Regions from separate parts of the Homo sapiens genome. Here all the other regions are linked to region 3. Evidence: fine-mapped expression QTL. A gene starts in region 3. Each other region holds a variant in brackets. All regions are shown on one strand. Distances are between the middles of the regions.

The links. PIP is the estimated chance that this variant, and not a neighbour inherited with it, causes the effect.
Region 1: its variant is the best candidate, but not a certain one, in a credible set for the expression of ZDHHC14 in whole blood (INTERVAL, PIP 0.59).
Region 2: its variant is the best candidate, but not a certain one, in a credible set for the expression of ZDHHC14 in whole blood (INTERVAL, PIP 0.63).
Region 4: its variant is the best candidate, but not a certain one, in a credible set for the expression of ZDHHC14 in cerebellar hemisphere (GTEx, PIP 0.69).

Annotation. Positions count from the first base shown.
Region 1 is chr6:157,537,447-157,545,361 of GRCh38, reverse strand. It overlaps ZDHHC14 (zDHHC palmitoyltransferase 14), which reads right to left. Exons shown (of 9, transcript NM_024630.3): 2 at 2,617-2,777. Among named protein-coding and RNA genes, the nearest start is that of MIR3692, 12 kb to the right of the region's middle. The variant T/C (reference allele first, on the strand shown) is at 4,138.
Region 2 is chr6:157,437,537-157,445,451 of GRCh38, reverse strand. All of the region lies in intron 1 of ZDHHC14 (zDHHC palmitoyltransferase 14), which reads right to left. Among named protein-coding and RNA genes, the nearest start is that of ZDHHC14, 60 kb to the right of the region's middle. RefSeq lists a silencer at 6,879-7,079. The variant T/C (reference allele first, on the strand shown) is at 4,354.
Region 3 is chr6:157,377,743-157,385,657 of GRCh38, reverse strand. It overlaps ZDHHC14 (zDHHC palmitoyltransferase 14), which reads right to left and starts at 4,468. Exons shown (of 9, transcript NM_024630.3): 1 at 3,392-4,468. The coding sequence starts at 3,636. It overlaps LOC124901446, which reads left to right and starts at 4,567. Exons shown (of 1, transcript XM_047419644.1): 1 at 4,567-6,344. The coding sequence starts at 4,957. The coding sequence ends at 5,847. RefSeq lists enhancers at 3,411-3,550, 4,309-4,920, 5,532-6,144 and silencers at 3,641-3,690, 4,201-5,090, 5,251-5,330.
Region 4 is chr6:157,505,666-157,513,580 of GRCh38, reverse strand. All of the region lies in intron 1 of ZDHHC14 (zDHHC palmitoyltransferase 14), which reads right to left. Among named protein-coding and RNA genes, the nearest start is that of MIR3692, 20 kb to the left of the region's middle. RefSeq lists a silencer at 7,578-7,778. The variant C/T (reference allele first, on the strand shown) is at 4,065.

The DNA.
Region 1 (7,915 bases), 160 kb before region 3:
GTATAATTTATGTACCACAGCAGTCACCATAGAAAGTGTGCAATTCAGTGACTTGTAGTGAATTTATTGCATTGTGCAACCATCACCACGACTTAATTTTAGACCATGTTCATAATCCCAACAAGCTCCCTCATGTCATGTGCAGTTAACCTGCACTCCTACCCTCCCAGCCCCAGGAAATCACTAATCTCCTTTCTGTCTGTAAAGATTTGTGCTTTCTTTGACATTTTATACAAATGGAATCACACAGTACATAGTCTTTTGTATCTGGCTTCTTTCCCTTAGCAAATGTCTTTAATGTCCATGTTGTAGCCTGTATCAATACTTTTCTTCCCTTTTATTGCTTCATGGAATCCAATTGTATGGATATACCACATATGGATCATCAGTTCATCCTCTGATGGACATCTGGGTTGTTAGGTTTCATGCAGCTATGAATATTCATATACAAGTCCTTGTGTGGACATATCTAGGAGTGGAGTTGCTGGGTCATATAGTAATGGTGTTTAGCTTTTGGAGAATTCTGAGAAACTGCTTTCCAAAGTGGATGTACCATTTTACAATCCCACCAGTAATGTACAAGGGTTCCAGTTTCTCCAAATCATCACCAGCATTTGTCATTGTCAGTCTTTTTGATTAGTGCCATCCTAGAGGGTGTGAAGTGGCATCTCACTATTCTATTTTTTGGTTGTTGTTGTTGTTGTTGTTGTTTGACACAGAGTTTTGCTCTGTTGCCCAGGCTGGAGTGCAGTGGCACCATCTTGGCTCACTGCAACCCTCCGCCTCCTGGGTTCAAGCGATTCTCCTGCGTCAGCCTCCCCAGTAGCTAGGACTACAGGCTCGCACCACCACACCCTGCCAATTTTTTTTATTTTTAGTAGAGATGGGGTTTCACCAGGTTGGCCAGGCTGGTCTCAAACTCCTGACCTCAGGTGATCCTCCCACCTTGACCTCCCAAAGTGCTGGGATTACAGGCATGAGCCACCGTGCCCTGCCTCATCCACTTTGTAAGAAAGGCAGAAAGTCTGTTCCTAATCGTGCTGATTTTGCAGATGCACCTGCACTAACCTGGAGATGGGGATCACTGCAGGAAACTGCATCACCCCCAGTATGGGAGCTGGGCCCTTGCACTGAGAAGAGGATTTTCAAGTTACCTGCTCATATATTGTAGGCATAAACCATACAGTTTTGAAGGAAACTAGGTTTGACTTCCCTCTCTCTCCTCAATGATATGAGGAGCTGGAAAGAACAAGGTCTGAAATCTGGAAACCTGGGTTCTAGGCTCCAGTTCTGCCACTTTCACCCATTTAAGCCCCTCTTGGGGGCTTTGTTTCCTTATCTGTAAAATGGGTGTAATAATAAAGTTTTCCTTACTAGGTGGCTTAGATGTGGAAAAAAATGCAGTGATAGCCATGGATGGGCCTGACAAACGATTAAAGTGCTACAAAATGTGAGCCTTAAAATTATGCACTAGCATGCCCTGTCTTGGAATCCCATGATGCAGGGGCTAAGAAAGAGATTGTCTGCCCACTGCTGCTTCTCCCTCCCCCTCCTTCCTACCTCAGGACACAAGACAGCTGCAGTCTAGCAGATGACACCACACACTCCACACACTCCCATTTTACTGCTCCCTTTCCAGGCAGCAGGGATGAAGGATGAAGGCAGATGTCGAGAGAAGGACAAAGCTGTGCTTTAGTACTTGGGGAATGGTAGGACCAGAATAGGCACTTTTCAGCAAGATCCACAGCTCTATCTTCTTACACTGTAGACAGGGAGGTCCCTCCAGCTTTAGTGAAGGCTGCAAAGGAAAGTCCATAGAATAGGAGGAATCCTGGAAGAGAATTATCTCTGCCAAGTGATTTTTCAGGCCTAAACATTATGTTCACACCAAGTCATCACAGCTCCTCTGCCATGCTTGTGAAATTTACCAAAGCACCACAGCAAAGCTATACATTCACAATCACAAACTTTTAAGAGCAAGAAAAAGCACTCCTTTTAATTAAAAAAAAAAAACTGTAAAAGTTTGTTGTGTAAGGGATTAGGATCTGTTTTAATATCTTCAAAATGGGTTGTAATAAACTTTAGTATAGGTTTTAATATCTAAGGAAAAATAAAGCTATTCATCTCAATACATATCACAGATACATGTTTATTATACCTAAATAAAGGAAATTCTCAATCCTGGCCTGGATAAACAAGAAAGCTGCCTAAGATGTAACTTTCCTAGATTTATATCATGGAAACTGGTCATGCTCCAAGGATTGCAAAAGGGAGAAAGGGCAGCAACCTACAACTGTAATCTCTCGGGGTGGAGGCTGCTTAGTAGAGTGGAATCAAACACTTGGGTTTCAAAGAAACATCAGAAGCACAGCTCACACTGATGCTTTGCTCGAGTGGGCCTGCAGTCCTGCCTCCAGGATACCTGTCCCTCCAGCCTTATATCCCACCTCTTCTTCAGCTCATCCTGCCCACCCAGCGAGCTAAGGAACGCTGACTTCTGGCCTCCTTCCTTCCCAGCGCTCAGCTCCTCCTGCACAGCCCTCGGCCTGCCGTCCCCACTGTAGCTGGGCCCAGGCGGGAAGTGACCAGAGGCCATGGGCAGACTTTCAGTGTTACCTATTTGCCTTTCCAGATCGGCGGCTTCATCAGGCGTGGCTCGTGGGAGGACTCCGGGGTCGCTGAAGCTGGTGCGGAGCAGGGTCCCCATCACAAAGAAGAACAGGATGCCAGCGACTGCAGGGATGGCAGGGGTGATTTTCACCGCCAGGTACGGACAGCTGCCGACAGGTTGGACAGACCGGAGAGAAGGGGAAAAGAAAGGAAATACAATGTTAGGAATCAACAGTAAGCAGTCTTTATCTTCTAAGAAATCAAAAGCTTATTTGGAGGAGAGAAATTGATTTCCATTAAAAATTCATCTATGTGAAAGATTTACGTTTGGGGAGGTCTGCAGTTCTGTCTTACAGACAATTGAACCCCCACTCCCCAGTATGACGCCCAAGCCCTCTGCTCTTACAGGAAGATGCTGGCAGAAGAATGAAAATAGTCCTGCTTGTATAATCAGTCTAAGACGCACAGAGCTTGTATAAATAGACACGTGTCCTCTGTGCTGTAAACACGGTTCGGGAGTCTATGAGATCCCCCTGCCCTCCCCTGGGATTACATAACAGAAGAAGACACCAATTTAGAATGATCTTCATGAGAGCCAGCCTTTCCCACTTGGGTCAAATGACTCGGGAACTTTCAGCCAGCACCAAACGCTGAGGACTGTACACACACTTTCAAAGGGCAAGAAACCAATTTTCCATGTTCTGGAGGTAATCTATTCCAAAGTGAATGAGCTATGGAAATGGACTTGCAGGCAGGTTTCGGAAGAAGATTTAAGGGATTTCAGCAGCTGGAATAGAATCATCTCATGCTTTTCCAGAGGGCATCTGAGCTATCAATGGATGAACATGGCCCAACTCTTAACTCGACCTTTTCACTGCTGTCAGTCTGACATGCTGACGTGAAGCAGGGATTGTTATGAGTCAGGGAGAAGTGCCACTGGGACAGACTAAACTCTACACGAGCCAGCCTGGGAACCAGTGTCTGACATTTGGTCTCAGATCCAGGTATTCTAGAGCTGGAGCAGTTCTTACCGTGGCCCCTTGATGCAGTCAGATGCCTGGACCTAAGTGAAGGATGGGATCTGCAGTGACCACAGTCAGTCCATTGTCGCCACATTAAATAACATCATGGGCATTGGGGAACATGACGCAGAATCACGGAATTAGGACATCTGGCGTGGAAAACAATGCTAGATTGCCCACCTCATCAGAAGATTCTCTTCTATGTTCTCAAGACAAAACAGAGATGGGGAGCTGGAGAAGAAAGGATTGGGAAGCTCAGCTCTGCTCAAGACTAGGAAGCAGACAGGGCTCTTGGTCTTGGAAGCCCTGGGAACCAGCACCCCACTGCTGTTCAGGTCTCTGATGGATGGCAAACGGATGCTGGCACGAGTCTGGGACTTGAGAGCCACAAGCCGTGATCCCCTTTGCTGAGACAAGTGATAGAACATTAGTGCACCAGCCTTCAAGAGGCCTGCAGACCTAGACACAGCTTCCTGGAGCAATCGCTGATGTTGACAATGTGGAC[T/C]GTGGCTGTGCAAGTTTCCTAGCATGAGGAGATGTACAGCGAAGTATTTAGGAATAAAGTGCCATGATGAATGCAGCTTACTCCCAAATAGCTCAAAAAAATATTGTCTAAACAGAGCAAATGGGATCAAGTATTAGCAAGAGGTGAATCTGGGTAAAGGGTGAATGGATGTTCTTTGTACTACTCTTATTCTTGTAACTTCTCTGTAAGTTTGAAATTATTTCCAAATAAAATGTTAAAAAAAGAAACACAGTCTACATTGAAGGCATGAAATTACCCTGGTATGAAATTATATATATATATATATATATATACACACACACACACACACACACATACATACATATATATCTATATATGTTATATATATAAACCCTGAATACATATAATTTTAGTCTAAAATAATCTACTTTAGGGGGAATTTTTTGTTACAAAATGGTTAGGGAAAAGAGCAACTGTGTAGAAAAGAATTTTCCAAAAAAACTTAAATTCACAATTCGACATAGTTTGAACAATGGCAGTGAGTAAAACAAGCCCACGTTTTTCCCCCTTCTCAAGATTAATGAATTTGAAGATGATGTTGGCACAGCAAAGCCAGTTTCAGCGAGGGCACAGCTGGACAACGTGAACCAGACAGACCCGGTTAGGAGAGAGTGTTCCACCTCAGGTGTTGACAGCTGTGATTTAACTCTATGGAGCTTCTCCAAGGATGGCTACTTGTGAATGGCCAGAACCCTCCTGTGAGGGTGACTTAGTAGATCTTAGGCTTTGGTGTGCTTATTTTTTCCTTTTTGGGTCTGAGACGCAGCTTGGTGGACCGCAAAGTCCACCTGCTCAAAGTTGCAAAGGCTGCCTCTTGCTCTTACAGCAAGTTCTAGCATGCTTTGCCCTCCACCGTTCCCTGTCCCAAGTGCACTCTCTGCAGGGTTGGGATCTTCCACAGCCACCCCACTTCCCCAGGCTGATGCCTCTGCGGCCTCTCATCACCTCCACCCCCTAACCAGGATGTCCCCTGCCACACTCTCACTGCAGGGATAATACACTGTAGATTGGTATTTGCACTTGAGCACACACTGATTTGTTCAGAGCCATCCCAGAAAGGAGGAAAAGGCAAAGTCCAGTTGACGCGGGGAGGCCTACTGCCTGCCGGGTTCTCTAACTGCGTAGTGGGCTGTTGCACTTGGACAAATCAGGGTATGGATCCGAAATGCCTCTGTCTGTGTTTCCCTGGGAACCTGCTCCTGCTCCTGTCCCCGCAGGAAATCTCAGGCAGGTCTAGTGACTTCTCTGATGATAATATGAAGGTAATAGGAAGTCCTTGTCGCTTTAAGTAGCAAACAGTGCCATTTAAGCAAATGAAAGAGTAATAATCCCAGTGAATAACGGTAACTTCTACCTTGATGTGAAGTTAAGCCCCCTCCACTACCCCAGCTCGCCAGCTGCAGTTTCTGGCCCCTCCACGGTGGAGAATAAAGCAGGTGAAGTAGAGAGGGAGGCAGGAAAGAGCCTACAGGAAGAGTTCTGTTACAAGGCGACTATGTGCTCTGGGTCTAGGAGATGGTTAAACCGGCTCTACCTAGACTCGCATTGGTGAGTGCTTTGGACGCCCCGGGGGAACCTAGGTGCATGGCCCACTTGCAATGTCTTCCTCTTTCCCTCTTCTTAAATAGAAACGGCCAGCTTCCTCCCACTCAGGGACTTCCTTCCACGCTGTTTTGCCTTCCAGTCCCTCCTCTCAGAAGCCCTCTTTGTCTTCTCTCCGGGGGACAGCTGGAACAGTGATCTGTTTGTTTGTTTATTTATTTATTTATTATCTTTCTGGAGACAGGGCCTCACTCTGCTGCCCAGGCTGGAGTGCAGTGGTATGATCATGGCTCACTGCAGCTTTGAACTCCTGGGGCTCAAGAGATTCTCCCAGCTCAGCCTCCTGAGTGGCTGGAACTACAGGTCCTCACCACCACACCTGGCTAATTTTTTGTGTGTTTTGTAGAAACACTTTGTTGCCCAGGCTGGTCTCAAACTCCTGGGCTCGAGTAATCCTCCTGCCTCAGCCTCCCAAAGTGCTGGGATTACAGGAATAAGCCACCACACCCAGCCTAGAACAGTGACCTCATACCTGCCTACCATGATCCCCTCCTTCAATCTGTCCCAACCACCACCGCCAGCTCCAATCACACGTGTCTCTGCTCAAAAGCCCTCCATGCTTCCGCCGTTCCTACCAAATGAAGCTCGAGCTCCTTATCTGGTGTCCAAGTCCCCCACAGTCACCTTCTCTCCCTCTCTCTCACTGCCCCCTCCTGAATCCCAGCAATGGCCACACCTAACATTTGGGCGTCTCAGGCAGGCACCCGCTTTCACTCACCGCCAGCGCTGCCTGTCCAGCCCACGTGTCTGGAACACCCGCACCTCCCATTCAGCATGTTGATGCTCCCAACTTTCCAGTTCCAGCTCAATACCGCTTCCTGAAAAGCCTTGGTAGAGTTTCTGGGCTCACCCCCTAAGCAGAAGGGATCGCTTCTTTCTCTGAACCCCCACCGTGTTTTTCTTTGCTCCTCTCCTTGGACATGTGGCTATTTGTGGACATGCTCCATGCACCTCACTAGATTAAAAGTCCTGGAGGGTGAGACTGGCTCCTGTTCCTCTTTGTGTCCTTTGTAGCACCTAGCAGGATGCCTCGCATGATGTAAAATGCAACTAAGTTTGATAAATATTTGTTGAGTAGCTGAATGAATAGAATCCATTTAGTGAATTTTACTGTAACACCTGAAAGAGGAGGAGAGTCAAGTCACCCATACCCTCAGCAACCACAGACCTGGTCTAGAACTTCTCTACTTTTGTCAGCTCGCTAGGTCCTGTAACTTCCTTCAGACAGATGCTAAGGCCCAGTTCCTTCTGCGAGGCTCCCTCAGCTGAGAGGACAGGATATTCCTCAGCTCGCTGAGCCGAGTGTGCCTCATGTTCACCTTCTGTGGGCATTTGCTGGAACCTCTAAGACCCTCCATGTGCTAAAGTTCTAGTAGATGCAGCACCATATGTTGGTACAACTCTGTATAATGCTAGGTGCTCTGTGACAGTCCCGTTCCACCAGCCTCTGTGTGTGACAGAGGACAGTGCTGAGTTTGTCCTAGAAATCCTCAACAACTCACTTTTTATAAAAGTGGCAGAATTCCCAACCCTAAACAATGAGGTCAGGGCTACTGAGACACCTTCAAAATGCTGCTTAGAAAAAGCATAGAGCATCTGTAGTCCTTGTGGTAAAGACAAGGCAATAAGCAGACCCTGCCCATGACTGTGAATGTTAACCTCCTGAAGGAGGTGAGACTAATGGGACATCCCAGTTGACCCACAGACTGGCACGGCTTCACAGCTGAAGGAAGCACTGTGCACAGTATGGCAAATTCTTAGTCCGAGCTCAGATGACTTGAAAATGGCTCCTCCATATTTCTGAGCAACTGTGGATGGGAACTCCAATGCTGAGTGCCATCTGTGTTGAGGAAGACTCCATCCCCAAGGGCCTGGATCTGATACAAGATGATGAGGCAGCTGCCAAAGATATAAACACCAAATGGAATCCTATTTCTGTCTCAAGAATTGTGACCTACATACAACTCAGGGCAGTGTAGCAAACAGGCTACAGGCATCTTAGTCTTCATAAAGATTAACTGGAAAGTGACAGGGGGAAAAATAAGAATACATCTTCATAACATAAAAGAAATTAGCTAATTTAGCACCGGATACTAAAATGATGAGAAGCCTTTACAGAACTCTCCCTCCAATC
Region 2 (7,915 bases), 60 kb before region 3:
TAACTGCATGACATGGAGATGTAACAGGAATGAGACGGAGGCAAGACAAATGAACCAGGTTTTCATCTATTTCTGGCGCATCTTGGCTTTGTTTATTTTTAATAAACCGTGATGGCTCTTGTCTAATCAAAACTGCTATAAGAAGCTGGCAGAAGACAGAGGTGAAATTAACTCTTTGAATCTTTCCATCTCTTTTGGAAACATTCATTTATCTCCAATAATTCAGAGCTATTATTTTCAACAGGTTTTTATATATATAAAATGATGATGATGATGATGATGATGATAGATAGATAGATATGAAGAGTGTGTGTGTGTGTGTGTGTGTGTGTGTGTGTGTGTGTGTAATATCTGGCAGTGCTAAGACCCATGCCAGAGTCACCAGGTGTTTCCCTTGTGGTCCCTTCCCCAGCCTGGACTCTGTCTACATGGTCAGAATTGCTGCCCTCAACTCTGGCCTCCTCACACTGGGATCCCTGTTATGTTTTGAGCCCAGCTTCTGGCCACATGCCCACTTCTGGGCTTTGCCTTGATCAGTACATTGATGCTCCTGCCTGACCTTTCAATGACTAGTGACCCCTCCCGTACCCACTTTGGTCTCATCCTTGAGCAGCTGACTAGACCATGGAAGGCCCCTCCACTCGGCCCTCAGTGGGGAATGTGAATGCTGTTTCTACCAAAGATGCCCACAGAATGTCTTCTGCAACTGAGGTGGGAAAAGTGTTACTGACTTTCCTGGATGTAGGGGCAAAGTATATCCCTTTTTTTTTTTTTTTGACGGAGTCTCTCTCGGTCGCCCAGGCTGGGGTGCAATGGTGCAATCTTGGCTCACTGCAACTTCCACCTCCTGGGTTCAAGTGATTCTCCTCCCTCAGTCTCCTGAGTAGATGAGATTACAGGTGTGCACCACCATGCCCGGCTAAATTTTCTATTTTTAGTAGAGATAGGGTTTCACCATGTTCGTCAGGCTGGTCTCAAACTCCTGACCTCAGGTGATCCACCCGCCTCACCTTCCCAAATTGCTTGGATTACAGGCGTGAGCCACCATGCCCAGCCTAGTATATCCTCTTACTGAGTGTTCTCTTGGAGCCTCTCCCCAGTCTCAGAGCTCCCTGCCTCAATGTGTATTCCGTGGTGTCCGCTACCAAACAGCCCATCCAATCACAAAAGGCAGAGACTGCAATGTGTACCCTGGGATTCTGTCATTAAGTATGATATGCTCACTAACTGTAGGCTTCATTGCGGGTGTAGAGACCATCTAATAATATTGCAGAAGGCTGTATAATAATTTGGAGTCAGTTTAATTTATATTAAGATTGTTAGCTCTATCACGATTACTGTTTGACTTTGGGCAAGTTCCTTAACCTCCTGCTCATGAGATCATTGTGAGGAATAAACAAAATATTACATAAAGACTTAGTGCAATGCTGAGCACACATAGAACATTTATTAAATGCTAGCTGACTCTGAAAAATAATAAGATAACAATACCATATTCATTTACTAGTGCTTACGGTACACTAGGCTCTGTTCTGAAGTGTGTTATCTGGGTTATGGCATTTAATCTGAAGCAGAACCCTAGAAGGCAGACATCTCCACTCTACAGAGGAGGAAAACTGAGTTCCAGAGAAGGTAAGGCACTACCCAAAGTCATGCAGCTAGTAAGAGGCAGAACTGGGATTCAAACATGAGTCGATCAATTGGGCCAGAGTGTATCAGATCAATAAGAGCCATGAATATCCATGTGCAGCTAGTTCATCTTAGCTTTGGGTGGGAAAATACCCTTGGCCATTCATTTTAAAGCTGGACATGTGCTAAACCTCACCACATAGATTGGTTTCACCACCAGTGATGGCAGCCACTGTGAGTCATTCAAAGAACAGGTCTAGTGGTTTCCTGGCTTATGTTTTTGGTTTTATTAAAATTCCACCATCTGGTTTCTTCATAGCTCACGGTGCTTTCCCTTAAAAGAATGCTGAGGTTGAGGTCAAGGGATAGCCGCAGAGCAAAAGGGATGGGGTTCAGGATAGGATCACCCCGGGTGCTGCCACAATGCTCCCCTTCACACAGGCAGTGGGACCCTGTATTAGTCCATTCTCATACTGCTATAAAGAAATATCCGAGACTGGGTAATCTATAAAGGAAAGAGGTTTAATTGACTCACAGTTCAGCATGGCTGGGGAGGCCTCAGGAAACTTACAATCATGGTGGAAGGGGAAGCAGCACCTTCTTCATAAGGCAGCAGGAGAGAGAAGTGCAGAGCAAACAAGGAAGAGCCCCTTATAAAACCATAAGATCTCCTGAGAACTCACTCACTATCATGAGAACAACATGGGGGAAACTGCCCCCATGATCCAATCACCTCCCACGAGGTCCCTCCCCCAACATATGGGGTTTACAATTCAGATTACAATTCAATCTGAGGTTTGGGTGGGGACACAGAGTCTAACCATATCAGACCCTAACCCAAGAGGCCTGGGGACAGGCAGTTACTTGATTGGCTTCAAACTAGTAACAGAGGAAATGACTACCTCAGTCTGCCCAGTGATGTTCCAGATCAAGCTCTGGAAAAGCCTTCCTTGAAAAAGGTCTTAGAATTGTTGCTATTTAAAAAATAAAATCCACCAGGGGTGCTGCAAGTGGCAGAGGCTGCCTCTAAGAGCGTACCTGCTGAGTAAGAGCCAGAAGGAGAAGAGCAAATTGTTCTTCAGGAGGCGTCTGCTGGGCGGGCTTCAGACTTGGGCCACCTTTGGCAGGGGCAAAACAGCACGTAACCTCGTGCCCTCCAGGGTACGCTTTCTACATCAGGAGAAAATCGCCCAGGCAAAACACTGATGGACTGCAAACAACTTTTTCTTCTCTTTAGTTAATGGAAGTGATATTTATCTTGCCACCAACAAACCGGCACACTGGGAGAGCGGGGCTTAGAGTTTCGAAAGCCAGGAGGAAAATGGTTCTTGCATTCCATGACTCATCTTTCTCTTACCAAAGCAATTCTGTAGTAACAGCCATAGTTCCTACTTCATGAATGTAGCGTATGGAAGTTGTTTTGTTTTGGTTTGGGTTTTTTTGACAGAGTCTCGCTCTATCGTCCAGGCTGAAGTGCAATGGCGTGATCTCAGCTCACTGCAGACTTGACCTCCGGGGCTCAAATGATTCTCCCACCTCAGCCTCTTGAGTAGCTGGGACTACAGGTGTGCACCACCATATCCAGATAATTTTTGTATTTTTTTGGTTTCACCATGTTGCCTAGGCTTGTCTCAAACTCCTGGGTTCCAGGGATCCTCCCCACTCAGCCTCTAAAAATGCTTGGGATTACAGGCATGAGCCACCATGCTCAGATGAAGTTTTCAAAAAACTTTATGAATGTAATCTATTTCTTCAACAGAGCACTGTTTCTATTATTCTGAGGGCTGGATAACAAGCATCACTATATCCATTCTATAGTTAATAAATCTGAGGCATCAAGAGGATAAAAGATTGGTATCATGAGTTAACTGTAATGCTAATGCTAAAATATTGTTTCCACGAAACAGAAATCTTTTCTGTATGGAAATCTCACACACACATACACACATGGACTAAGGAATATTGATTTTTTCTTTTCTTTTTTTGATTCGGAGTCTCACTCTGTTGCCCAGGCTAGAGTGCTGTGGCACAATCTTGGCTCACTGCAACCTCTTCCTCTAGGGTTCAAGTGAGTCTCCCACCTCAGCCTCCCGAGTAGCTGGGATTACAGGTGCACACCACCATGCCCAGCTAATTTTTGAATTTTTTTAGAGACAGGGTTTCACTATGTTGGCCAAGCTGGTCTCAAACTCCTGATCTCAGGTGATCCACCCACCTTGGCCTCCCAAAGTGCTGGGATTACAGGTGTGAGCCACCGTGCCTGGCCAGATTTTTTCTTTTCTTTCATCCGTTTCTTTTTTGTTCAAGAAGCTGTGTCTAGATTTGCACATGTGCTTGTCAGAAAGAAATTAACATAGGAAATTTCCTTTCCTCACTCCCACACAACACATCTGCCAATCTAACACTTCCAAAAGCAGTGAGCAATGAGGAGGCTACAGCAACAGAGAACAAATAACCAGATTCACAGAATTTGGAAATAAGAACAAGTGTTTGGTGTCTTCCTGGGAACAACTTCTAGCTGAAGAGCTCTCGTCTCAAATGATCGGAAACCTGCTGGGACAGAATGGAGGATTTGCAAAGCCTACAAAAATCTGAGCCATGAGCGATCCTTCCAGACAAAACACTATCTCTTATTTTCTATCTCTGCCCTGACTTCCACCTCCTAAAAGGTGTGGTTCCCTCTTTTCAACTCTCACTAGTGGCTCACTTACGGACACAAAACTA[T/C]CACAGCCACAAAAAAGAGACAGAAAAGGAAATCTTGGAAACTTAGATTTCCTCTGGGTTTACACTGAAAAGACCCCCATAAGTCACATTCCTTTTCGTTTGTTTTTTTCCCTTTTTATGAAGATAAAATTCATATATGGTAAAATTACCCATTTAAAGTATGCAATTCAGTGGCATTTGCTATAACCACAATGTTGTCTTAGCTCAACTCTCCCTAATTCCAAAACAGTTTCACCATCTCAAAAGAAAACTTGTACACATGAAGCAGTCACTTCCCATAAAATATGTGATAGCTTCTGTCTTCTTTCACTTAGCACCTGTTTTTAAGGTTAATCCATGTTGTACCATGTATCAGTACTTCATTCCTTTTTTATAGCTGAGTAATATTTCATTTTATGAACATCCCACAATTTGCTTATCCATTAACTCATTGATGAACATGTGAGCTGTTTCCACATTTTTGCTATTGTAAAGAACGCTGCTGTGAACATGTGCATGTTTGTATTTTTTCAGTATTTGTATTCAATTGTTTTGGGTATATTCCTAGAAATGGAATTGCTAGGTCATATATTAATTCTAAGCTTAATTTTTTGAGGAACCTCCAAAGTGTTTTCTACAGTGGCTGCAATATTTTACATTCCCACCAGCAATGTACAAGGTTTCTAGTTTCTCTATGTCCTCATAAACACTTGTATGTTCCTTTTATTTTTCAGTTATCACAATCCCGGTGGGTGTGAAGAGGTATCTCAGGGTGGTTTTCACTTGCATTTCCCTAGTGACTAATTTCTCTATTTTGTCATGTGTCTTTTGGCTTGCTGGTTCTTCTTGCAGAAATGTCTATTTGAGCCTTTTGTCCATTTTTAAATTGGGCTGTGTGTATTTCTGCTATTGAGTTGTAAGTGTTCTTTATTATTATTATTATTATTATTATTATTAAAGTTCCAGGGTACCTGTGCAGGATGTGCAGGTTTGCTACATAGGTAAACGTGTGCCATGATGATTTGCTGCACAGATCAACCTATCACCTAGGTATTAAGCCCAGCATGCATTAGCCATTTTTCCTGATGCTCTCCCTCCTCCCACACCCCACCAAGAGGCCCCAGGGTGTGTTGTTCCCCTCCCTGTATCTATGTGTTCACATTGTTCAGCTCCCATATGTAAGTGAGAACATGCGGTGTTCGGTTTCCTGTTCACGCATTAGTTTGCTGAGGATAATGGCTTCCAGCTTCATCCATGGCCCTGCAAAGGACATGATCTTGTCTGCTTTTACAGCAGCATAGTATTCCATGGTATATATGCACCACATTGCCTTTATCTAGTCTATCATTGATGGGCATTTGGGTTGATTCCATGTCTTTGCTATCGTGAATAGTGCTGCAATGAATATATGTATGCATGAACCTTTGTAATAGGATGATTTATATTCCTTTGGGTATATACCCAGTAATGAGATTGCTGGGTCAAATGGTATTTCTGGCTCTAGGTCTTTGAGGAATCACCACACTGTCTTCCACAATGTTGGAACTAATTTATGTTCCCACAGACAGTGTAAAAATGTTCCTATTTCCCCACAGCCTTGCCAGCATCTGTTGTTTCTTGACTTTTTAATAATGGTCATTCTGACTGGTGTGAGATGGTATCTCATTGTGGCTTTGATTTGCATTTCTCTAATGATCAGTGATGTTGAGCTTTTTTTAATATGTTTGTTGGCCACATAAATGTCTTCCTTTGAGAAGTGTCTGTTCATGTCCTTTGCCCACCTTCTAATAGGGTTGTTTTTTCTTGTAAATTTGTTTACGTTCCTTGTAGATTCAGGATATTAGATCTTTGTCAGTTGGGTAGACTGCAAAAACTTTCTCCCATTCTAGCACTCTGCAACTGTAGTTGCCATTTTCTTAAAGGCCCTAAGATGTTTTGAAAATGAAGAACGGAAATATTTAGCAGGAAATAAGAGATATAAATGGATATGTTAGACAGGGAACATGACAGAGTTTCTCTGGATGGGGAACTGTACCAAACCCAAGTGACAGGGTACTTTTTTAAAAGTTGCTCAATGACCCTCACATGAACTGCCAGAAAAACTCTTTGTTGGCAATATGATTCTCTAAGCAGTGGAGTGGCTAACTCAGCACGAATGCTCAATTCTAGATGAATTCAGTTCTTGGCACTCTCTACCGCCCAGACAATACTCTGAATTTATCACTTATAAAATATATTTGTCCACAGCTTTCTCTGCAATCCTCCACAGCCAAACACATCCATAAATTCCACAGCTCTAGCTCCAACTGCTATTGGAAATAGTACTCTAACATCCTGACACCAACACGAATATTTTGGCTGCTTTTAATATGACATCCAGACTTTCGGATTTCAAAAACAATGCCTGAGATAAGCAGGAAATATCTTGTGGTACAGTGGAAGGAAAAACTTTTTATTCCCTGAGAAAGTCTTACAAAGACACAAGCGTCTTGTACGAACAATGTTAAAATGTAAAGTTTAATATGGTTGTTACTATGGTGATCCTCACATTTGCAAATTCACAGGGGGGTTTCAGCATTGTGCTGTACTTTGAGATAACTGTGAAGGTAATTTGTGAACTTCAGCTGATGAAAACTAGAGATGTCTGCACGTGGCATTTGTCTTCAAGAGTCTTGCTGATTTTCTGTACTTCCAAATGCAACTCAAAGTCCAGATTTTAACCTTACAATCTTTAAAATTATCTTAATATGGCTACCTTAGAGATTTCCTTCCTCTCCCTGCAAAATAAAATTAATCACTCCATTTGAAAAACAATCCTATTTCTAGAATCTACAAGAACTTTCCATAAAGCATTCTTACCTTAAATGCTTGCATTCTTCTTGCCAGGAAAGCCCAAATTTGTGACACCTTAGCAACCTGTTCAAGAAGTATATTTTTTTCTGGGTAAATTACACTCTTTTCTACTTTCTCATTTTTTTTGAAGATTTAGAAATTATTCACAATAGGATTAATTAAAACTACATGATATAATAAATGCTACTGAACTGTACAGTTAAAATGATTAAAATTGTAAATTTTATGTTATGTATATTTTACCTCAATAAAAAAAACATGATAGTTCAGTACACCTAACTTTTAATTAGCTTTATACCTATTTAGAAAACCAAGTAAATTATAAAATAAAAAGAAAGTAAACCTGGATTTTTTTTTTTAACTCTACCATCCCATGTAAATACTAAGGTCATAAATTTAACCAACTTGTACTTGTCCTTCTTCTGTAAAAATCTGACCTATATAATCACCTAATTTAATATGGGGAAGAATGAATCACAGCACACATAGAGCTATATTTTTTGGTTTTAAATATATGAATTTATTATCCCGTAGCAATCAACTAACACTGTTGCAGAGAAGAGTTAGTAGCCTTTAGTCATACCTATTTGAATCTATTTTACCCTGACAGGAAAGGTCGTTTTACGAGTAAGAAATGCAGAGACTGAGCCTGTGAGAGAAGGATTCTTTAATTGGGGTCTTCCAGGGACCTGTGAGCCCAGTGAATTGATCCAAGTATTGTATACAGGCA
Region 3 (7,915 bases):
CTGCCTTTCTCCAGGGGCTAAAGACTGTATCAACACCTGTTGCTGAGTTCTAGTAAGTTCATTTCTCTTGGACAAACTTTCTTGTCCATCTGTTCAAGGTCAGGAATGAGAGCTGGGATGAGAGAAGAATTGCAGACAGGGGAGGGCTAAAACTAAATGACTAAGTTATTCACTCTTTTTGTCACACATTTTATTTGCTTTTGTGTAACTGGGGAAACGCAATTCTAATGTTTGACAATGAAGTTTACTAATATTAAAAGCTATCTAGACATGATAGCCAGGTGCGGTGGCTCATGCCTATAATCTCAGCACTTTGGGAGGCCAAAGCAGGAGATCGCTTGAGCCCAGGATCATAGTGAGCAACATAGTGAGACCCCTATGTCTCTACAAAAAATACAAAACTTGGCTGGGTGTGGTGGTGCATGCCTACAGTTCCAGTTACTAAGGAGACTGAGAAGGGAGGATTGCTTGAGCCTCGGCGGTCAAGGCTACAGTGAGCCATGATTGTGCCACTGCACTCCAGCCTGGACAACACAGTGAGACTCTGTCTCCAATAAAAAGCTATCTAGACATGATGGCCAGGTGCAGTGGCTCACACCTATAATCCCAGCACTTTGGGAGGCCAAGGCGGGAGGATCACTTGAGGCCAGAAGTTCAAGACCAGCCTGGGGAACATAGGCAGACTCCATCTCTATAAAAAATTAAAAATAAATTTTTAAAAAAGCTATCTAGACATGAAATTAAACAATCAAAATAGAGGACCACATAACTAGAGGAAGGCAGGAGAAAGGCAGGCCAGGGGCAGGCAGTACTGGCATTTCCTCTGGATCTCGCTTAGGGATTGGCCTGTTGGTATTTTCTTCCTCTGTATGGGGTTAACTTGTTCTTTGGTCTCTAGCAAATTAATTTGGTCAAATTGGTTATTTAATTTATGAATAAAGAATTTGAAAGCAATACAGTGACAAATATTCTCAGCTAAACCATAATATTCTGTAGCTCGAATAGCCTCTGATTTTTCCAAACAGAGGCATCATACTAGGATGGGCCTCTTGTTTTCTTGAAATGTCAAATTGCCTAGTTGAAGCAACAACCATGGAGAGCAAACACACACACATATACACACATACGCTCCCACAGAGCTGATATAAAAAAGATGCTGCAAATAGCAGCTAATAAAATCCCGGCGCACACATTTATTCCTACAGTCATCAGTTAACATAACACTGACACAGAGAAAGATCCTTAACAACCTGCTAGTGAGGACTTTTGGGAACTCTTGAAAAAACACACGCAGAGATCAAGAAACGAAAATGAATTTATGATGGTTTGGTTAGAAGCTATGTTTGAATGAAGAAAATAAAAGATGTTAAGTAATAACTGGGGGGATCCCTAAGCATACAGTGGGGACTTGGGTATATACAGAAAATGAAATATTCATCATCCTCCATGGAGCACACTTGTGGCTGAAGCTCTGCAACAGAATCACAAAATTAACCCATTTTCTCCACAGTTAAAATCGCTAAAAAGAGCAAAAGTGCCAATTTGGATCTGTTCAAGATTTTTTTTAAAAAACTGTAGGAACACAGTTAATACTCTGCAACTAGAGGACCACCTGTAACTAAATTCACCATTAGAGAGATGGCATTTCTGTTAAACCACATGGCATCACGCTTCCAGTGCCAGTGTTCATCCTAACAGATAACGTAAACTCATGGGGAACCTCTATGCCCCTTCTTCCAGTTTCCAAGGTCTGTAAGGACAAGAGGCTGCTCTCAATGGGGGCCCATGGGAGCAACAGCAGCATGAGTAGAGTGTGTCTCCCTGCCACTCTGAATGCCTGTTCACACCCTTCCCCTCCCGTCCACAGGTCTCCCCACTGACTCTACCTACTAGTGTCAAACAGACACAGAACCTAAACATCAAGGGGGACCCGGGAACTGCACATACCATCGGAAATGGGGAAGAGGAGTTGTGTGTGAGAAGGACTGGGGAAGGGGAATTCGCTTAAATCAGAGATCCTTCTCATCGCCTGGTCTAACTCAGTCCTCTTAAAACTGCTAATCAGCGCACAGTGTCCAGATACAAAACGTTTCTCCTGAGAGTCAGAGGGCTTTGAGCGACAAGTATTACGTTGTCAAGAGATCATTCATTTCCAATTGAGACAGCATTTGGAAGAGCAAAAGCCAGGCACAAAATTAGAGCCTATTAATCCTAATCAGAAACAAAAGTAAATAAATTCAAAAGGTTTTAATTGAGCCTACCCAACAGGAGGAGGCGGAGACTGAAGGAGTATCAAGCCCAATAATAACCAGGATTTGGGAAGCCCAAAGAAGAGCTCCCTATAAATATATTGCTTTCTTTAAATTCTGAGGGGAAAAAAGTAACTCCACCTTTCATTGAACATAGGATACCAGAAATTACATAAGGAGTTGCATTCCAAATGTTGGATGCAAAAAAAGCAACCAAAATTGATTGGAATGTGGTTTAACTGCTTTATCTAATCACTGCTAATAAATAAGAAGACCTTTCATTAGTTGGCAGGAGGACAGTTGCTACTGGCCAATTTGATTTTCCTGAAAACGGTGAAGACTTGCATGCGCTTTTTATCCCCCCAGATATAATCCCTGAAGTCCAGACTGTTTCTGGAATCGGAAGTTGTCACGTAGTGTCATCCTCTTCCTTAACAGACCTAAGGTCTCCTTTCACATGTTCCCAAATTGTTTGTTTTGGACACCTTTTATTGCAACCTTTTTGAAAGTGAAGAGTTTAGAAACCTCATGGCAAATAAGAAATTGTTAATCCAGAGTGAGCATGTAGGAGGCTGGAGAATGCAATGATCTATCCAGGGCACACTAGGCAGCCGACACTTTGAAACCTGAAATAGCCAAGATTCCTCAATTATTCGTCGAAGTTACATGGGAGATTCAGTCAACTGAGCTTAAGAAGATGCCCTATATGTTGTCAGCAAGGGGGAAAAAGTCAGTTCCATGTATCCCTGACTTAGGAATCTATCGCACCCCACCTTCCCACGGCAGGCTACATCTGGGCTGATTTGCTGGGTCCCCAAACTCGGTAGAGAGCGCCCCAAGGATCAGGGACCGGCGGCCCCACCTGCTGGGTCCCATCCGCCACCTGGATTGGCAAGGCCTGGCCCCCCTTGCAAGTGGACCCCTTCCCTCCCTGCTCCCAGAAGCCCAGCCCAGAACGGCGTTCTTTCCGGGGGCCCAAAAGCAATCAGACCTTTAAAAGAAAAAAGAGGGAGCGCAGACTGGCATTATATAACAATTTACAGTAGATAAGACTTCTAGAAAACGAAAGCAGCCCGAGGAGGGGCGGGGGACAGGGGAGACCAGGGGAGTGCGGCGTCGGGGGAGCGGTCGCCACCACTTACTCGAAGGCGAAGAAGAGTCCGCTAGTGACCAGGATGAGGACGAGCGTCAGGTAGAAGACGCCCGTCTGCCGGGCCATCATGATCCTCCCGTTACAGAAGAACTTGTTTCTTCCCGGGAACACCTCCCATTTCCTCCGGGCCGCGATTTTCTTCTTCTTGTGGGGCGACTCCATGGGGGAGGAGCTGTGGGTGCTGATCTGGCTGTACTCGCAGTCTTTCATGGGCCCGCCGCCGCCGGGAGGCATCCACGAGGGCAGCCGGCTGGGGGCGCACACCCCCAGGAGCCCCCCGGCCGCGCGGGCCCCGCCGAGCCACGACCGCCGCCGGCCGCCCGGCCGCCCCCCGAGCCGCGGCGCCGCGGCCCCTACACGGGCTCCCGGCTCGGCGACAACTTTGCCGAGGACACCCAGGTTAACCCTCCGGGGAGCCCAACTGTCATAGCAGAATCCCCGCTCCGTGAGGGGACGGCGCTGGTCCGCAGCCCGCGGCAGCACTCCTCCGTCGCTTCCAGCCCGCGTCCCGGGGCGCGGGGCTCAGCCCGGCCGGCCCCCGGGTCGCCGAGCGCCCGCCCCCTCGCGCGGCTGCCCGCTCGGCCCCGCAGCCCCCGGCTCCCCGGCCGCGCCTCGGCTCTGGCCCGCCGACCCCCGAGCACTGCGCCCCGAGGGGACACGAGGCGGCGGCCCCGGCGCCGGCTTCCTCGGGAGCCACTTCTGCGGCGCGGCCAGGTTGGGTCCACTCCTTCCTCCGGCAGCGGATCCTCCCAGGAGAGAGCGCTGGCGACTGGGCGGCCGCGCGCGGCACCGGCAACCCCTCCCAGGGGTGGGGACAACCACGCACGTTTTTCTGTCAGGAGCCTCTCGGCGAGAGCCGGGGCGCCGCTCGCACCGCGACCCGGTGTCGCTGCGCCTGGCAGCCTAGTCGAATCCGCGGCCCCCGCGCGGGGATGCGCGGGCCGAGGGCGGCGGCGGCTCGCGGGCCGCGCGGCGAGGGCTCCCTTGCTCCCTCCTACCCGGAGGAAGCGGCCCCGGCGCGAGGAGGGCCGCGGGGACACAGCACAGACACTTGTTTGCAAGGCTCAGCCCGGCGCGCGCGCGGCGCTCCGAGTGGGTCCGCCTCCTCCGGGCCGGGTGGGCGGTGGCCTCGCGCCTCACCCGCGGCTCCTCCTCCTGCTCCTCCTCCTCCTCGCCCGCGAAGCCAGGGCACCGGCGCAGCGAGATTCCAGCCCCAGCCCCCTCGGGCGGGCGCCCTGGGGTGTGGAAGGCGCGGGGCTCCCTGTGGCATCGCCCAAGTAGGGATGGGGTCGGGCGCCCGCGGCCCCGCCGCGCAGTGCGCTCCTGGCCGACTTCAGTCCGTCTCGCGGCTTCTTCCGGGTTTATCCCGCGCAGCAGCTGCCGCCTCGGGACACGCTCATTCCCACGGCCACCGGCAAGCCACTCCTGGCGACTCCCCGGGACCTGAGGAGCCGCGGCGCGGAGGTGACCCTCCCCGGCCTGCGCCTCCCTTCTTCCTCCTCCCCAGCTGGGCGCGTGGTCGCGTCGCCCGGGGACTCTGGTGATGCCCGAGAAATGGGCTGGGGGTGCCGGGTGCCAGGATGGGGTGGGGCGGCCCTAGGCCGGCCTGACTTCGGGACCGGGCTGCGGGCGAGGGTCTCGGGGCCCGGCTCGGCCGGCTTCCGGGCCGAGAAAGAAGGGCAGAGGAAGCGGTCAGGGTCCCCTCCGGCCCCGGCCTCCCTCCCGGAGTATAAGCCCTTGGAGGCCAGGTTTTGGGTTGCTGCCGCCCAGCTCTTTCGGTCTCCACTTCTCCCCACGGACGTTTACAGCTGCTCGCTTTATTTCTCCCTCCATTCCCCCGTGGAGCCCCCTCGGCAGCGGAGGGGTCGCGTGCTTCTCCTCTCCCGCCTGCGCCTCCCCCCTTCCCACCCGACAGCCCAGGAGGAGCTGCGGGCGCGGCCCTGGGACGGCCGGAGCCTGGGGCTTCTGCTCGCTCGCGCCCTCCCAGGCGTTGCCGCGGGTCCGAGCCCCCGCAGAGGTGGGCATAGCCCCGGGGCCGCAGAAAACGAAGGCAGCTGGGCAGGGATGCTCAATTTCCCGAGCCCCACTTTCCTTTCACAGCCCACTGGGATGTGTAGTTCTTCCGCCCGCAGGCCTGCGCCGAGGAGAAGCACGACTCGGGGCCTTAGAAACTACAAGTCCCTGCATCCCCCGCGACAAGGGCAGGAGAGGCGTGGTGCTGGGCGTTCTGGGGCTAGGTGGTGGGAGATGGGAACCAACAAAGGGGGTTGTGGGGAACGGTGCCTTCTCTGTACTGGGCAGTTTGCACGTTACACATGTTCTTTGTCTAATCTTCGCCGGAACCCGGTGAGGCATTATTGTATCCAGCTTAGAGAAAGCTTAACTACTGGCCAAACATCACAAAGCTCCCAAGTAGTAGAGATGGCATCGAACCCAGAGCCCTAAGTATGTCCCTTACAAAGCGTGCCTCAGTGAGGAGTGTCGAAGGGGGATGAGATTGGCTTATCCAAGAGGGCCAGTTGGGAGGAGCTGTGGTAAGGAAAAAGTGATGGGAATAGCAATTAGAGTATGACATGCAATTACAAGGAGTTTTGAATACAAGTGAAATTTACAGGGGTCCATTCCAAAGCCGGTTAGAGTCTAGGGAGAATGGATCTTAAGCACACGATAATAATTGGGTTTTAATTATTTTAGATATTGTATGAGAGACAAGCATATTACAGGGACAATTAAGTATTTGTGGCTGGACTAGTTTTAAAAAACCAACTGGAAAGCTTCATACATTTCAAGTGAAAGCTCTCATATGCTTTCCTGTCCTTTAGCTAATGAGATCAACGGGGTATTATTCTTATTCTGTTTATTGCAAGCACCTTTTCTGTGGGTGTCCAATTAATATAATAGATCCATTGATTTGATGGCATTAAAAAAGACTCCCACTCTTATTCTCAATGAAACCGAATTTTTCTGGCATTATGGTTATGCTTTTAAAAAGTCCTTCCTTGTCTGTTAGAGATATGTACTAAAGTATCTGCCAGCGAAATAATATAAAGTCTGAAATGTGCTTTAAAACACACCAGCCCATCCACTCCCCTCCTCCCACCCACCCAGCTCCAGACATGGAGGTATAAATGAAACAATTGGAAACTGTTGAAAATAGTTGACCTTGGGTGACATGTACTTGTACTTAATTATTTATTGCTGCAAATTGCCACAAACGTAGTGGCCTTAAAACAAGACAGATTTTTCTCACAGTTTTTATGGATCAGGTGTCCAGGTACACTCAGTCCCCCACTTAGGGTCTCACGCCTGCCATCAAGGGGCTGGCCAGGCTGCGTTCACATTCACTGGAGAAGAACTGGCTTCCACTCTGACTCCGGGCACAGGCAAAATTCCTTTCCTTGCAGCAGTAGGACCGAGGGCCCTGGCTTCTTGCTGGCTGGAGACTGGAGACTGTCCTCAGCTCCAAGAGGGAACCTGCAATTCCTAGAGGTTACCTGGACTTCATTGTCACTTGGGCTTTCCGAGCACAGCCACTTATTTTGTCAGGCCTGCAAGGAGAGTCCCCAGAGTGAGTCTCCAGCAAGACAGAATTTTATATAACATAAAGCAATCCCACGGGGGCAACTTCAAATGTGAACATTCTGTTGGCCAGAAAGCATGTTTTGCACACACTCAAAGGGAGAGGAGTACACAGGGCATGAACCCTAGGGTGAGGGACACCCCGGAGTGCATCCACCACAGTGTACATGAGAGTCCATTATGCTTTTCTTACCTACCACATCTACTCATGTTTATGTTTGACATTTTCCATAATAAAAAGAAATGAATTCGTTTTAAAATGTTACCTAAAGTTTCCACAGCAAATAAGATATGCTGATATGATTTCTAAATAGCTGATACAATTGTCTGTAGTTGTCTTCCAGGGGATAACTTTTTTCTTCCCACTCCATGTGTACTAAGACCTCTGCGGTTAATTCACTTGTATGGGTTACCCTCCCCTAAGAGCGTTCACTAGAACCTGGTGTGTGATAGCTGCAGAGTTCACCTCACCAGCTACAGTTGATCTTGAACAATATGGGTTTGAACAGCGTGGATGCCCTTAGACACGGATTTTTTTCAACCAAATGCAGATGGAAAATACAGCATCCGTGGGATGGGAAATGCGAGTATTCAGAGGGCAAAGGCCCACTCTTCCTATATGCAGGTTCTGTGGAGCCTGTTTAAGGACCTGAATATGTGCAGATTCAGGTATACGCAGGTGATCCTGGAACCAATCTCCTGAGGATACTGAGGGATGACTGTAAAACCTACTGTATAAGGGATGGTAGAGTTTATTCATTTATTTTACAGTTATCTATTTCAGGGCCTAGATTGTGCTAAGTACTGTTTTAGCAGCAGTGATACAAAAAGATCCAAGATAGAAGCTTATATTTGGGGACTGGGGGAGAGGTGGAGAGAATAAACAAATAAATAAATGACTAGTAAGACAATTTCAGAGAGTAATTACAAGAAC
Region 4 (7,915 bases), 130 kb before region 3:
TAAATACCGAACAGCAAAAACAGCCATGAGTCTGTGTTTTCCAAGGCTTATGTCAATGTTGACAGAGTCCCAGATGGAGCTCGGGGTGCAATCAGGTAAAAAGTAACAAAGCACTAACAGCTTAGGGAATGGTGTGAAATGTTCAGAAATGAATGTTTAGAATGAAACTGACTTACTATCAGCTCCGACCCTGGGCCCTGCCTGTCCTGACAGGTGTGGACGCCACCACCACACTCACAGCTGTGAAACATCTTTCCTACAGCCATATAAGTGGCAACTCTTGAGAGTTTAGTGTGCTTTTAAGAAAGCTAATGACACTAAGAGGAGGAGAATGGTGCTGAACAGTCAATTTTGTTTTCATCTTACAGAGAACAGTAAGCTATTAAGAGCAATCTGCTCAACAGCGAGACGTCACGAACAAGCTGAGCCATCTCCCCTGGTGTCCTGGGCTAAAGAATCTCCTTAGAAATAACAGCATTTGCCAGACGTTTATGCAGAAGTGGATGCATTATTTAACAAAGTCCCGTATTGTTTATTCTGGAACACTGATATGAGAGTGATACACATGCCTTTTTCAGCGTTCCCAAATATTGGTGATTTTGTTTCATGTCTGGGTTCTTTTGAACTGTTGTCACTGATAGTGAAATACTAATTGTATATAAAGGCAGAAACATGCTTTTCCTGAGGTTAGGAAACATATGCAGCTGGAATCTATAAAATAAATAATTTCTCAAATAATGACAGGAACATTTTCAGAGTATATTATGTAGTCTAACCCTACATTCTGATGAGTGTACAGATTAGAAAATATACATACTGGAAGACGGATATATTTTTATCTGTTTTGACAAGTTTACCCATTTCTCTCCCTGTCTTTTTTTCTTTCTTTCTTTCTTTTTTGTGGAGAACTGGGACTTGCTATGTTGCCCAGGCAGGTCTTGAACTCCTGGGCTCAAGCTATCCTCCCACATCTGCCTTCCTTAGTGCTGGGACTGCAGATGTGAGCCACTGCACCTGGCCTCGCCCATTTCTAAATAAGCAATTTATTGTTGCTCTTCTTCCCAACAAAGTGTGCATGTGTGTGTGGCTCACGCATGAACTGTGAGCCACGGACTATGCTTAACACAGTGCAGAACGTGGCTCTGTCTTTGAAGGATGATTCACTCCAATCCTAAGGCGGAAAATGGCCAAATTAAGAGCAGAGCTGGTGATGAGGACTACCAGAGGGCTATGTGGCCGTAAGCTAAGGAAGGGGCTTCTGAGGAGGGCAAGTCAGCCCTACAGAGGGCCCCCCAGCGGCATCCAGGGCCAGCCAGGGCCATGGACCCCGAGCCAGGATGACTGGGTTCAAATCCCGGCTCCACACTTACTTGCCATGTGACTTTAGCAAGTTATTAACCTAACCTCACCCTGCTTGAGTTTCCTTCACTCGAACATGAGGATAATAATTGGACCTACCGCAGGAGGGAACTGCAAGAATTAAATAATACATATAAAGCATTTGTGACAGTGCCGTCACTATCCTCCTCCAGGTAGGCTCTTTATGACCTTCTTCACCGTTCCAGTTCATTACTTCGCATTTCGAGCATGTTGTTCATGCTCCAGTTCTAAGAAATCAAGACCACTGAGCAGCACAGCCAACACCTTCTCTCCCAGACATCGTGAGTGTGATCAATATCATCAGCATGATTAAAAGCCTATTTATTTATGACATTGTGCTAAGTGCTACACTAACACACACACAGAGGTCCTCTAGAAATTCCCAGCTCATAATGGACGATAACTGTAAATCCAGAGATAGAGCACATGCATTAGGCAAACGTGGAAATTAAATAGGCTGAACATTTCCAATATTTGCAAGTAAATGTACTATTATATAAAAATGTGGGCCGGGCGCGGTGGCTCAAGCCTGTAAACCCAGCACTTTGGTAGGCCGAGGTGGGTGGATCACCTGAGGTTGAGAGTTCGAGACCAGCCTGACCAACACGGAGAAACCCCGTCTCTACTAAAAATACAAAAAAAAAAAAAAAAAAGTACCCGGGCTTCGTGGCGCATGCCTGTAATCCCAGCTACTCGGGAGGCTGAGGCAGGAGAATCGCTTGAACCCGGGAGGCGGAGGTTGTAGTGAGCCGAGATGGCACCATTGCACTCCAGCCTGGGCAACAAAGCAAGACTCCGTCTCAAAAAAAAAAAAAGTTTCCTCATGCACTCTCACCACCACTTACCCCACTCCACGCTCCACTCTGAACAGAATGATTGGCTGTAGTTTACAGAAAATGGAACCAGGAAGCAAATAAACTAAAAGAGAAATTCCAGGTGCGGGCGATTCCTCTCCTGCTTCCCGCCCCACAGTTCTGTCTCACCTTCGCAATAAGCAGCCCGCCAGCCAAGAGGAAATGGTGGGTAAGCAACTCCATCCTCTTTGCCCCCACGGCAGGGCCCTGGAACCCACACAAAAAGAGCCGGACTTAGAAGCCGAGTCGGAGAAGATGCCTACTAAGGAAGAGGAAGAGGATCTGGCTCTGAGGCGGAGGCTGCGGTCGGCGAGGGTGGAGTTGGAGACAGTTGCTTTCCATGATTTGATTTCTAAGCCACAAAGGTAAATTATGATGAAACAAACATATACATTTTTAAATGCTGTAAAAAGCATGGGCAAAAACATGGGCAGGAAGCAGCCCCGGTATGGTTACTGAAACCGCTGAAGCGAGGGAGGTGTCTGAGGAAGGCAGAGGCCATTGGAAACTCGGGGACTGGTGGCCATCCCTGGGCGCCTGCCTGGTGGAGCTCTGCGCAATGAACGCCCCCCTTGCTGGGAAGGGGCGTGCTCCACGTGGACCCCGGGCCCCTCCCACCTCGCTCATCCGCGCTTCCTCTCTGCCCACCAGAGCTCTGCATTTGCTTCTCCTTATGCGGATTGCAAATAAGGAGGCAGGTGGAGAAAGAAAAATCAGCAGAGGCGACTGAGAAAGAGAGGTCAGAAGGTAGGGGGAGGCCCTGGAAGAGCAGCAGCAAAGAAGTTGAGAAAAGAAAGTTCCAGAAGAGGGCAGTGGCCCACCTGTCCAGCACTGAGGGACTTGGTAAGACATGGCCTAGTGGGTGTCCTGGGGTGGACAAGTTCACCCAAGACCACACCAGGACGGCTTCATGGAGCAGTGAGCATGGAAGGCTGCCTGCAGAGGGGCCTGTGTGGCAGGGGTCAGTGAGAGGATGAATGAGCATCTGGAACATTCTTTTCAGGGATTTAGTTGTGAGGAGGAGTGAAAATGGGGTGGAAGCAGTGGCAAGTGTGCAGCTGAAGTAGGGAATTTTATTTATTTATTTATTTTACTTATTTTTTGAGACAGAGTCTCGCTCTGTCACCCAGGCTGGAGTGCAGTGGCGCGATCTGGGCCCACTGCAACTTCCAGCCTCCGGGTTCAAGTGATTCTCCTGCCTCAGCCTCCTGAGTAGCTGCGATTACAGGCCTGGCCATCATGCCCCACTAATGTTTGTATTTTTAGTAGAGATGGGGTTTCACCATGTTTGCCAGGCTGGTCTCAAACTCCTGACTTTGGGTGATCCACCCGCCTTAGCCTCCCAAAGTGCTGGGATTACAGGCGTGAGCCACCGCACCCGGCCATGAAGTAGGGAATTTAACAGAGGAGAGGGAAGTGAGAGCAGAGTGGAGGCTGCAGGAAGAGACATGGCAATGAGGCTCTGGCCTCAGATTCTCCACCTGTCAATTCGAAGTCCTGCTACATGCCAAGTAACTAGCATGCCTTCCTTTTCAATTCTCTGTACCCAGTCTGCAAACATTATATTTTTTTAAAGATTATGAACCAATCCTATGAATGAAAAGGAAAGCACTCTATATCCAGAAAACTTGAAGGCCTTAAATGGGCAGTTTTGCACCTTTCACATTCAACTCTATCTCTCACAGTTTTATTAATTTCAAAATATGAATACACCTGTCATCAGTGTTTGAGATGGCATTTGGCTTGCAGGGCATCTTGGCGAGTAACAGAGAGGGAGTATCTGGAGACACACTGCCAGGTGTGAATCCAGCTCTGCCGCCTACTAACTGA[C/T]CTTGGAAAGTCATTTCACTTCTCTATGCCTCAGTTTTCATATTTTTTAAATGGGGACAATAAAGTTGTCCCCATTAAAAAAGTTAGGTTCACTATGTGTGTACATATTTGTTAAGCTGTATCTCACAAAGTGGTTAAGACTCAATATGTGTGTATACATGTGGCAGGCAGGATTCTGAAGAGGTCTCCCTGAGACTCCTCATCTGGATGCTGCTGTGGAAGGGGCTCTGCAGATGCTCCTAAGGTCACTATTCAGCTGATGGTAAGATGGGGACATCATCCTGGATCATCCAGGTGGGCCCAGGGTACTCACATCAGTGCTTAGAGACAGAAGACAAAGGGCGTAGAGGGGTGTTGGAAGAAGTGTGTTGGAGAGATGAGGCAGGAGGAGAGAGGCAGAGATTCTAAGGTGGGGAAGACTCTCCCCACTGCTGCTGGAGTGAAAGGAGCCACGAGCCAAGGAATGCAGGGGGCCTCTGGAAGCTGAGGTTAACCCCTGGCCAACAGCCGGGAAGAAACGGGAACTTGTGTCCTCCAACCACGTGGAACTGAAATTTACTTAAAACCTCAATAAGCCTGGAAGTGGGCTCTCTCTTTTTATTTTTCAAAGAAACTATAACTTATATCATCAGAAAAATAAAGCAAGAACAGGACACTAAAAAAGAACAGTTAGAGAACAAGAAGGAGTTTTTGGTACTGAAAGATATTGCAGGTGAATTTAAAAATTCATTGAAACATTAGAAGATAAAGTTAAATAAATTTTCCAGAAAGTGCAACAAAAAGATCAAGAGATGGATAATACAAAAGCTAAGAAAATTAAAGGATCAATACAAGACATTGGTTGGGTGCAGTGGCTCACACCTTTAATCCCAGCACTTTGGGAGGCTGAGGTAGGAGCATCTGATTGCTTGAGCCCAGGAGTTCAAGACCAGCCTGGGCAACATAGTGAGACCTTGTCTCTACAAAAAATATAAAATAAAAAAATTACTCAGACATGGTGGCACATGGCTGTAGTCCCAAGTACACAGAAGGCTGAGGTGGGAGGATTGCTTGAGCCTGGAGGTTGAGGCAGCAACAAGCCATGATTGCACCACTGCACTCCAACCTGGGCAACAGAGTAAGACCCTGTCTCAAGAAAAAAATACAACACATCAATATCCAAATGAAAGAGTTACAGATACAAAAGAAGTTTCAGATAGAGAGAACAGACAAAAAATAATAATGGGGAGGAAAATTATTGAAGGACATCTCCTAGAAATGAAAAACCCACATTTCTACATCAACAGGACTCACCACCACCCTGGTATTGATGCCCAACACAATGATTGATCATCATTTGAGAAAACAAAACCTCCAAAACACCAGCTGTAAAGAACAACATCTAAAAGCTTTGAAAGAGGTAAAGGAATGGTGGGGACAAGGTCAGGTTCAAATATTTAGTATATGGCCCTGGACTTCTGAATAGAAAATGTGGAAGCTAGAAGACAATGGAATCATTGCTTCAAAATTCTGATTGAGGATGATTTTCCATTCATATTTGTATACCCAACTTGACAATCAATCAAGTGTAAGATTGAAATAAACATATTTTCAGATATTTAAAATCTCAAAAAGGTATTGCTTCCTTAAGATGTCACAGGGTGTTTTCCACCAAAAGCAGGGAGGAAAATGATGAAGCTGAAGATCTGGAATGCAGGAACAGGAAGGATGTTCCTTGCCAAGGAGGATGCCCATCCAGAAGAGGGGCAAGGAAAACCCTCAGGATGATCATGACGGGAGACTCTGGAGCGACAGCAGTGCCCCAGGCCAGTCCAACTGAAGTGGAAGGAGGCTCAGATAGAGCTAAAATAGCAAGAATGGGTGCAATTGGATGGACATATTTTTACAGAGCTGTTGGAAGATGTGGAAAAGTCCAAATACAAAAACAAGTCAGGAGGCTGGGCACAGTGGCTCACGTCTGAAATTCCAGCACTTTCGGAGGCCAAGGTGGGCAGATCACTTGAGGTCAGGAGTTGGAGACCAGTGTAGCCAACATGGCAAAACTCCTTCTCAACTAAAAATACAAAAATTAGCCAGGTGTGGTGGCGTGCCTGTAATCCCAGCTACCCAGGAGGCTGAGACATGAGAATTGCTTGAACCTGGAAGGCGGAGGTTGTAGTGAGCCAAGATCACACCACTGCACTCCAGCCTGGGTGACAGAGTGAGACTCTGTCTCAAAAAAAAAAAAAAATGAGTCAGGAAATATAAAATGTTATATAAGGAAATATTCATAGTACAACCTGGCATAGGTGTGAACAATATTTACATGTGCAAAATAATTTAAAAATCTGGATATGGATTTAATAAAAATTTATGATATAGCTATTCTGAAGGGATTAGGGAGAAAGAGGAAGGGAAAGCATAAGAAAATAAAAAGTACACAGATAATGTCTAACATGAATGAACCAAGAGAGAAGTACATACATATTACTTAGAATACCAAAAACAGTTGAAACTGAGAGTAGGGGGCAGGGTCACAGGAGATGGCTGGTTTTGGTTATAAGTCTTTTAGCACAATTTGGCCTTTTAAACTATATGTTACTTTAATTAAAAACCAAAATTAAAAAAAAAATGACTCTACTTTCCTAGGTGCCACTTATCAATGGCCACATTCACTCTGAGTTGAAGGACATGGATGTTTAGGATACTTTATGCAAGCACAGTTGTATCCACTAGCTAATATCCTGAGTGGTTGTTTTCCTTTAGATATAGACAATAGCTCACATTAACATTCCCCCAGGGACCAATATAAAATATATCTGTCGTCAGCATATGAAGGCTCACTAAAGTTAATGGGCTTTTTCACACATCACCTAAGTTGTATACCTAATATACAACAGCAGAAGCAAATTAATAAATAAACTCTGGAAGATTCTAGCTTGTCATTGCTAAGTTTACCATTGTTTGCATAGTTCAGGGAGAGGACCTAGAATATAACTAAGGCAACAGGAAAATAATGTTTGAAGGGGATTAGAGAAGTCCACATCATCTCATGCACAAATAACAGTGTGAGCAAGAAGGCAGCTAATGTTAGCCTCATGCTGACCTTGCAGAGGGCTCTCTCCAACATCCAGCTCTTTGCAAATGGATTCCCAGAGTCAGAATATTGCATCTGAAAGAGACCTCAGAAATAGTCCAGTTTAACCCTTTCATTTCCCTAATGAGGAAACTGAGATAGGTTGACAAAAATAACAATTGTGTAATGTAGTAACCGCTGGCTGGACAGAGACTTCAACCCTGGACTCAGTCTGGGTTTTAGGTTGTGAATGAGACATGGATGTTTCTAAAGAGGGATAATGAGATTGTGCTGAGTCACACAAATGACACCAGAAATAGAACTTACTATTTAACCATGAAGAGATTCCATTCCAGACTAAGTGTGGGAAAAGCCTTTAACCACCCAAGCTACAGTGTTTTCCCACGGATGATCAGTGCCTAGAGAAGACTTTAATGAGAGGTGCAAGTTACCAAGCACAGGTGCTATCTACACTAGAGCTCATCTGCTGTATTTCTGAGCCAAACAGGCCCTGATCTCATTGACCGAGCTGCATTTGTTCAGTGTTTCAGCACTTGGGTGCACTCAGTTACATCTGACCAAGGGATTTTCTTGCCCTTCCAAATCATTCACTGAAAATGTGCTACTGGCAAATATCAACTCTGATGACTACAGAAACAAAACTCTTATACTTCTACACAAAGATGAAGACTCAATTTAATTCTTCGTTTAAACAAATTTTTTTTTTAACTTCTGATCCCTGCCTCCCTATCCATGAACAAACATTTCGCCAAGTCACAAGGACGTCAGGGTTTTA